2 separate regions of the Homo sapiens genome follow, and region 2 is linked to region 1. The links come from fine-mapping of genetic effects on gene expression. Tissue or cell type: monocytes. Region 1 holds a variant in brackets; the other region holds the start of a gene. All regions are shown on one strand. Distances are from middle to middle.

Region 1 (4,238 bases):
CTGTTGGCCAAAGCAAGTCCCAGAGCCAGCCCAGAATCAAGGGGAGGCCTAACCCCATCTCTTGCTGGGGGAAGCATCAAAGTCACTCTGCGGAAGGGTCACAGATGGAAGGGACTCCTGCAGCCATGTTTGCTATAACCAACCATACCCAGCATAGGCCATGTCCTCCCTAGGGAATTGTCTGTCCTGCCCCACAGGAATGTCATGAGGCAGGGGTTTCTGTATGTCTTATCTGCTATACCTCCTGCACTTAGAAGAAAGCCAGGCACACAACACACCTTTTTGTTTGTTTGTTTGTTCTTGAGACAAAGTCCCACTCTGTCGCCCAGGCTGGAGTGCAGTGGTGTGAACTCGGCTCACTGCAACTCCGCCTCCCGGGCTCAAGCAATTCTCGTGCCTGAGCCTCCCGAGTAGCTGGGATTACAGATATGTACCACTACACCTGGCTAATTTTTGTATTTTTAGTAGAGATGGGGTTTTGCCATGTTGGCCAGGCTGGTCTCAAACTCCTGGCCTCATGTGATCAGCCCCCTTTGGCCTCCCAAAGTGCTGGGATTACAGGGGTGAGCCACCGCGCCTCAACACACTTCTGTTGGGTGAATGGTTAGGAGGATGGCTCTGTGGTCAAATATCCACTGTTGAAATCACATTTCTGCCTCTTATGCGTGTGACTACTTTGGCAACATTATTTTAGCTCAAAATCTCAGTTTCCCTATCTGTAAGATAGAAAAAAATGACAGTAGTGCCAATTCCATATAATTGGAAAAAGAACAAAAATACAGCATAAAAAATAATTAGCACAGTCCTTGGCCTATTTCTCGCCCTCCATAAATGTTAGCAGCTGTCACTTCCCATCCCTGTCTTCTACCCCAACTTCCGGTCTGGGTTCCACCCCTGACTAGGACTTTGGAGACTCCCTCCATGGCCATACTCCTGGCTTCCAACCCTCCTTCCTCCTTGACCTTCCATGTACCAGGCAGCACGTCCAGCCTCTCAGGACTCTCCATCCCAAGAAACAGCATCCATGACAGCCTTGGGGCTTCCAGCAACTTTCTAGCCCAGGGCTTCTCCTTGGTGCTAATAAATGGAACTCCCCATGTTTGGATCTATTTTATTTCAAGAATGACAGTGGCAAATGGGAAAATACTAAATAAATGACATTGGGTCTGTTTATCCAGGAATGTAATGACATTATAGTCTTCCCTTAACTTAAATGAAATAATTCATGATGGAAACAGTGGACAATTTTGTCACCTTGTGGTAGAGTTGAGGTCAGCAAACATCCCTCTTCTCATAAGCCTTCTTAGCCCCCTGGACCCTTCACCATTGCCAGCCATACCTGAACTGCTGGTTGAGCCTGGGCTGGTTAAACAGATGAACCCAAACAGCCTTCATTTTAAGGACACTTCGCTCCTCCATAAGGAATTCTGCAGCCAAATCCCCTGGCAGGGAGCTGGGAATTCTTCTCTGGACCTCTGGCCCAGTCTTCCCACTCCGAGTCCTGTCCCAGGCTTCCAACTACCCTCTCCCCACCACCCCCGCCACCACCGGTTCTTATATGGAACCCATCCAGCAAGCGGCAATGCACACACTCCTTAAAAGGCAGTAATGGTTTCTCAAAAATAAAGCGTCTCTTTTTGTTATATAACCAGCCAGGTCCCAGGCAAGCCACTAGTGCATCTACTGTCAAAAATACGAATCCCACAGCTCTGATGGATCTACACAAATAAAGAAAGGCTGGCCACTTGCCCCAGGTCACAGAGTCCAGAATTGATCCCTGGCAAAGTGGGACTCAGGCCAGCGGGTTAAAGGGTGGCCCCCCAAATTCATTTCCACCCAGAATGTCAGAATGTGACCTTATTTGGTGTAAGGGTCTTTTCAGGTGTAATTAAGATAAGAATATTGGCCAGGCACGGTGGCTCATGCCTGTAATCCCAGCACTTTGGGAGGCTGAGGTGGGTGGATCACGAGGTCAGGAGTTCAAGACCAGCCTAACCAATATGGTGAAACCCTATCTCTACTAAAAATACAAAAATTAGCCGGG[C/T]GTGGTGGCATGTGCCTGTAGTCCCAGCTACTTGGGAGGCTGAGGCAGGAGAATTGCCTGAACATGGGAGGCAGAGGTTGCAGTGAGCCAAGATCATGCTGCTGCTCTCCAGCCTGGGTGACAGAGTGAGACTCCATCTCAAAAAAAAAAAAAAAAAAAAAGAAAGAAAAGGAAAAAAAAAATAAGAATCTTGAGATGAGATCATCCTGAGTTGGGATGGTCTTTCAGGCAAGGTGGCTCATGCTTGTAATCCCAGCACTTTGGGAGGCCAAAGTGGGAGAATCACTTGAAGCCAGGAGTTTGAGACCAGCCTGGGCAACATAGTGAGACATCATCTCCACAAAAAATACAAAAATTAGCCAGGCATGGTGGCACACGCTTGTAGTCCTAGTTACTCAGGAGGCTGAGGCTGGAGATCACTTGAGCACAGGAGTATGAGGTTGCAGTGAGCTATGATTGTGCCACTGCACTCCAGCCTGGATGACAAAAAAAGAAAAAAAAAAAAGCCTAAATCCAATGACTAGTGTCTTAGTGTCTTTATAAGAAAAGGAGAAGACAGCCAGGCATGGTGACTCATGCCTGTAATCCCAGCACTTTGGGAGGCTGAGGCGGGTGGATCACTTGAACCCGGAAGTTCGAGACCAGCCTGGCCAACGTGGTGAAAATCTGTCTCTACTAAAAATACAAAAATTAGCCTGGCATGGTGGCAGGCAACTGTAATCCCAGCTACTGGTTGGGGCTGAGGCAGGAGAATCACTTGAGCCTGGGAGGCAGAGGTTGCAGTGAGCCGAGATGGCACCACTGTAATCTAGCCTGGGTGACACAGCGAGACTCCATCTCAAAAAAAAAAAAAAAAAAAAAAAGAGAGAGAGAAGGAGAAGACAGACACAGAGCAGGCCCAGAGGGAAGGAGGCCATTGCAGGCGGGGCAGAGGGTGGAGTGATGCTGCCACAAGCCAAGGAGCACCAGGAGCATCAGCAGCTTGAAGAGGCGAGGAGGGATCCCCCCTAGAGCCTTCAAGGAAGGGTGGCCCTGCTGATAGCTGGAGTTTTGGCTGTAGTTTCCAGAACTGGGAGAGAATAAATTTCTGTTGTTTTTACCCACCTAGTTTGTGATAATTTGTTATAGCGGTCATGGGATACAAATATACCAGGTTACTCTTAGCCACAGCAATGTGCAGGAATAGATCAGAGAAGGCCCAGGGCCAGCACTGCTGGGGCCAACAGCCCTCAGGAGCTCAGGGCCAGCAGCATCAGCAGTTTGGCCACACACTCTCCCAAATGCTGCTGGCAAGCAGCCCACGGGAGGGAGGAAACCAGGGCAGCAGGGGCAGGCCCCCAAGCAGGGCCACGTCCTGGTCCCCGCAGGCCTCTGGACAGAACGCACACGGGTGGAAACAGCACCAAAGGGAGCTTGGAGAGAGGTGTGCCACAGCGGGGGCGAGGTGGGGAGGGGGGTGCAAAGGTCGTGGGCACTGAGGTATCTCCCCGAGGGACGTCTAGAGCTGAAAGTGGGAACAGGAAACAGCAAGATGAGATTCATCTTGGAAAAATGCAAACTCAATCTGGGCAAAAATAATCGAAAACATAAGTAAGGGATGGGCAGGAATAGTCATGGCTCGGTGGGAGCAGGGAGGGAGGTTGCAGCCTCAGGGCAGCGGAAAGGGCCCAGCCTGGCCGGAAGGTGTCCCGCCACGAGGGTGGCTGGGCAGCCTCCTGACTTTCTGGGAGGCAGTGTCAGAGGAGGGAGCAGGAGGCTGAGGACTTGGACTTCTGGGAATCCCTAAGCCAAGTTTATTGGAACAGCTCACCCAAAACAGAGGGCTGAGGTCTCTACTTCCTGACAGCAGCCTGTGGTACCCACCCACCCAGGCCAGGGCCCTGCCCACTGCTGCCCAGGCCTGCCTTCACCCTCCCCTCTCTCACAGCATTCCCTGGGCCTGTGCTCCTAGGGGAGGCCATGGAGCAGGCTGAGCAGGCACCGTGGACATCTCCAGAGAGAACTCCGGACTCAGAGCCAGGAGGGGAGGCCGGGTGTGTGTCTTGGCTCTGCCGCTCAGACAGAGGCTCCTCGTCCACAAAATGAGAACAAAAACTTATGTTCCTTCCCTCCCTGCCTGCTTCCAAGCAATCCATGCCCTCTGCAGAAATTTTAGAAAGTACAAACAAAATGAAAAATGTTCAAATCACCCACA
Region 2 (4,238 bases), 45 kb after region 1:
CTGCCACATAGTATCTGCTGAGTAACTACCTTAATGGCTGTGACGATGAGGGTGGAGGTCAGTGGGTTATGCTGCTGAGTGACACAACCTGTAGTGCTGCAGGAGCCTGGAGGTAGGGAGGGAGCATAGCATGGCTGTCTGGGCAGATGAGTCCAGTGAGATGGGTGGGTTCTGACTTCATGAGGGGAAAGAGGAGGCTCCACAACCCTCATGAGGGACAGAGAGTAGATGGGGTGGGTAAGCACCGGGCCAGGAGTGGTAGCAGACAGCTCTCGTAAGCAGCCCAAGGAAAGGCTAGGAACATAGGAGGTCTGAAGAGGGAAGCCCAAACTGCCAGGTGGGCTGGGAGGCATCATCCCAAACCAGTGATGGTTCCTGAGAAGACTGATGATGAAGAGAGACCTGGAAGGGAGATAGATGAGGAGTGCCAGGAAGCTCCTAGGTAAGTCTGCCAGGGTAAACAGAGTGATCAAGAGCATGTTAAGAAGCAAAATCTTTAATTTGGCAGGGCTGAAGAGGGGCAAAGATTCTTCTGGGTTCTAAAGCCAAGTGGTATGATGTGGACATGAAAATGGGGCACTCATTGCAGAGATACTTTTGACTGGGTTTGAAGTAACAGGAGAGGTCTAAGAGAAACACGAACAGGAATAGGAGAGAGGCAAAACAGAGGGCTGACATCTAGAAACTCTCCTGAGAAAAATAACACTGACTGACGTGGGTAAATCTGAGGGATTATAAAGCAGGCAGAAAACCCCACCAAGGAAATGACGAGATATCCTTCTTTAGATGCCTCCAAAACAGAAGATGTGCTGTTTGGCATAAGTGCCATCCAGGGCACTCAGACCTGACAGGAGAGTCTACAGAGACCCCATAGAACCAAGCAACTGGTGTTCTAAAGCTCTTCCCCTAATGGCCCAGGGCTGAGGAAAAAGCAAAGCCATAACATCCTCAGGGTCACAATAGTACACTGCATAAAAGCCGCTCTGTGCTGGGCACTACGGAGAGCAGAGGAGATGAGAAAGCACTTACACAAGTGGAGATGGCCCCCACACAAGGGGAAGACAGTTGGGAGGGCCTCAGTGCTGACCACAGTGTGGCCCCACCACGACTCAGACTCCAAGGCCCAGTTTCTATTCCCCAAAGTTGGTCACCTTAGCCCACCATACTCAGCATATTTCTCAGAACTGGGATTTCTCAAAACTGGTCAGTAAAAACAATTTAAGCAAAGAGGAAAGTGAGGATATCTTGGGTGGTAGAGGGAAAATGGGACCTTTTCCCAAATAGATAGCGAGCATCCTACTTTCGTACATCTTCCCATGGCTCAGGCACAAGAAAGAGTACACTTTTTGGAGAAACGAAAGTTCTGAAGTCCACGTTCACAGACAGCCAAGAACCCAGATCCCTGAGCTCCTCGTCTGAAGCCCCCAGGGCAGGGCTCACATTCACAGCCCGGCTGCCAGGCCGCTCTCAAATGCCCATCCCCGAACACAGCGTTTGCAAAAAAACCGGGCGTGGCTTCCGCCTTCTCAGAGAGGGCTGTGCAGGAACCCCTTCTCCAGGGAAGTCCCAGGACTGGAAAGAAGAACCTGGCGAAGCTAGCAAGCACGACCAGGCCGAGGATCCAACATGGAAGCCCGCGAAGCCCACAGTGGGTGGCGAGCGACAGGGGGAGGGGCGGGGACTCACTGGGTCCCCCCAAGCCGGGTTTAACCTGTCCACGATCGGCGGGGCAAGGGGTCACGAGGGTGAGACAGCACTCCTGCTGCGGTGTGGAGGGGCAGACAGGTAAGCCCCAGGCCACCTGCCTGGGCACCGCTCCGCGCTCGCGCTCCCGCTCCCCCCGAGTCCCCCGCTCGCCCCAGACAGACCCACCCCTGAGGCAGCCCCTGGCCCGACCCTGGCCCGTCTCGCCGCCCACCAGTCGGTCGGGGACTTCTCGGTGACCACCCGCACGTAGGCCTCTTGCAGCGCTGGCCCGTTCCGGCTCAGGTTCGCCGCCATGGCCCGCCCCGCAGTCTCCGCGCCGCTGCTGTAGCTTCCGGGCCGGGCCGGGCCGCCCCTTTGACAGCCGACAAGCCTCGCCTCCGACAACCGGAAACCCCGCCCCACGGCAGGAAGCGGAAATGGTAGGGGCCAGCCGCACCCGCGGGTCCTAGCGAGCTGTCCGGCCAGCTGGTCTAGCATGCAGGTCCCGCGAATGCCGAAGGACAAGCGGGAGAAGGGAGGACCCGGCCTTCTGTTTGTCCTCAGGGAGGGATCCTGGGGCGCAGACTAGCCCGTCTTCTGGTCCCACCCAAACGGCAGCTCGACTTGGAAGCCTGGCCGCAGGGACCCAGTCCAGCCCCCGCTAGCTGCTCTCACAGCACCGTGCTTATTCTTTTCTAAATCTTGTTATGTCGATGCGCTTATTTGAACGATCTTGGGTTCACTGCAGTCTCCCTCCAGACGAGGTCTTCAGCCTGTTTGTGGACCCTCAACAGTTTGATCTGTGAAAGAAACATGCATAAATGTATGAATACACGAATAAATGAGTGCTAAGTGACGATCACACCGCTACAAACCTAACTGAAAGTGACTGTGCTTTCTCACTCTCACCTGAGTTTTTCCCTCTGCAGTTTGGTCGAGGCCAGGATAGTGGAGGCATGAAGAGAACCTGTCTTGTGCTTCACCTGCACATCTGGCTGGTCGCCCCTAGAAGGTGTCAGTAATTCCTCAATCTGCTCCCCTCCTCCTGGGAGCACCAGTTTTTCCATCCACAAATCTGCATACACTTGACTGAACTAGCTTCTTATCTGTATGATAGAGAAACATGCCAAAGCGCAAGGCAGCTCACGGCTTATTTCCTCCCATGGAGAATAACTCCCCTGCCTCCTTAAAATATAAATCCTGCCGGGCACGGTGGCTCACGCCTGTAATCCCAGCACTTTGGGAGGCCGAGGTGGACGAATCAAGGGGTCACGAGATCGACACCATCCTGGCTAATACGATGAAACCCCGTCTCTACTAAAACAAAAAATTAGCCAGGCGTGGCGGCGTGCGCCTGTAGTCCCAGCTACTCGGGAGGCTGAGGCAGGAGAATGGCGTGAACCAGGGAGGCAGAGCTTGCACTGAGCCGACATAGCGCCACTGCACTCCAGCCTGGGCTACAGGGCGGGACTCTGTCTCAAAAAAAGTATAGTATATATATACATATATACACACACATAGTATATATATGTGTATATATATACACACACACATAGTGTATATGTATATATACTATGTGTGTATATATGTATACATATATGTATATATATGCATATGTATAGGTATACATATATGTATATATGCATAGGTATAGGTATACATATATGTATATATATGCATAGATATAGGTATACATATATGTATATATATGCATAGGTATAGGTATACATATATGTATATATATGCATAGGTATAGGTATACATATATATGTATATATATGCATAGGTATAGGTATACATATATGTATATATATGCATAGGTATAGGTATACATATATGTATATATATGCATAGGTATAGGTATACATATATGTATATATATGCATAGGTATAGGTATACATATATGTATATATGCATATGTATATATGCATATGTATATATGTGCATATGTATATGTATATGTGCATATGTATATATGCATATGTATATGTATATATGCATATGTATATATATGCATATGTATATGTATACATATATTATATATGCATATGTATATGTATATATGCACATGTATATATATACACATATGTATATATATGCATATGTGTATATATATACATATAGTATATATATGTATATATCCACAATCCCTTAAGTCCAGATGTGCTTTGGAATTCAATCTAAGATTTCAGAAAAGTTATACCATGTATGTCCTGGGTAAGCCCTTATCACAGGATCTGGACAGGAACTGGTAATCAGACATGTTCATGCTTTTGCTGTGATATGTGTGAATAATCAGCTAAGTGTGTGATATGTGTGAATAATCAGCTAAGTGGAATATAAGACGACTCTAAATATCCTCATGACAATTAAGGTCAGTTTTTGCTACCAAATGAACTACCAAAATCTTAAGGTGTTTGAGTCTGGATGGTGCAGATAAGGGCTTGTGAACCTAATTTGGACAAAAACATGGTTCATTTGTTATGCCCATTTTTCTTTCTGTTCACATGATTGTTGCTTGTTGTCTTGTTTGTTTTGTGCTGCTATAACA

The links. PIP is the estimated chance that this variant, and not a neighbour inherited with it, causes the effect. A credible set is the group of variants that fine-mapping cannot tell apart.
Region 2: DBNL starts here. The variant in region 1 is the best candidate, but not a certain one, in a credible set for the expression of DBNL in monocytes (TOPMed, PIP 0.86).

What each region holds. Positions count from the first base shown.
Region 1 is chr7:44,087,777-44,092,014 of GRCh38, reverse strand. No RefSeq gene overlaps it. Among named protein-coding and RNA genes, the nearest start is that of POLM, 7.4 kb to the right of the region's middle. The variant C/T (reference allele first, on the strand shown) is at 2,045.
Region 2 is chr7:44,042,501-44,046,738 of GRCh38, reverse strand. DBNL (drebrin like) reads right to left here and starts at 2,037. Exons shown (of 13, transcript NM_001014436.3): 1 at 1,919-2,037. The coding sequence starts at 2,001. LINC00957 (long intergenic non-protein coding RNA 957) reads right to left here. Exons shown (of 3, transcript NR_072982.1): 3 at 2,443-2,486. RefSeq lists an enhancer at 1,339-1,839 and a silencer at 1,778-1,997.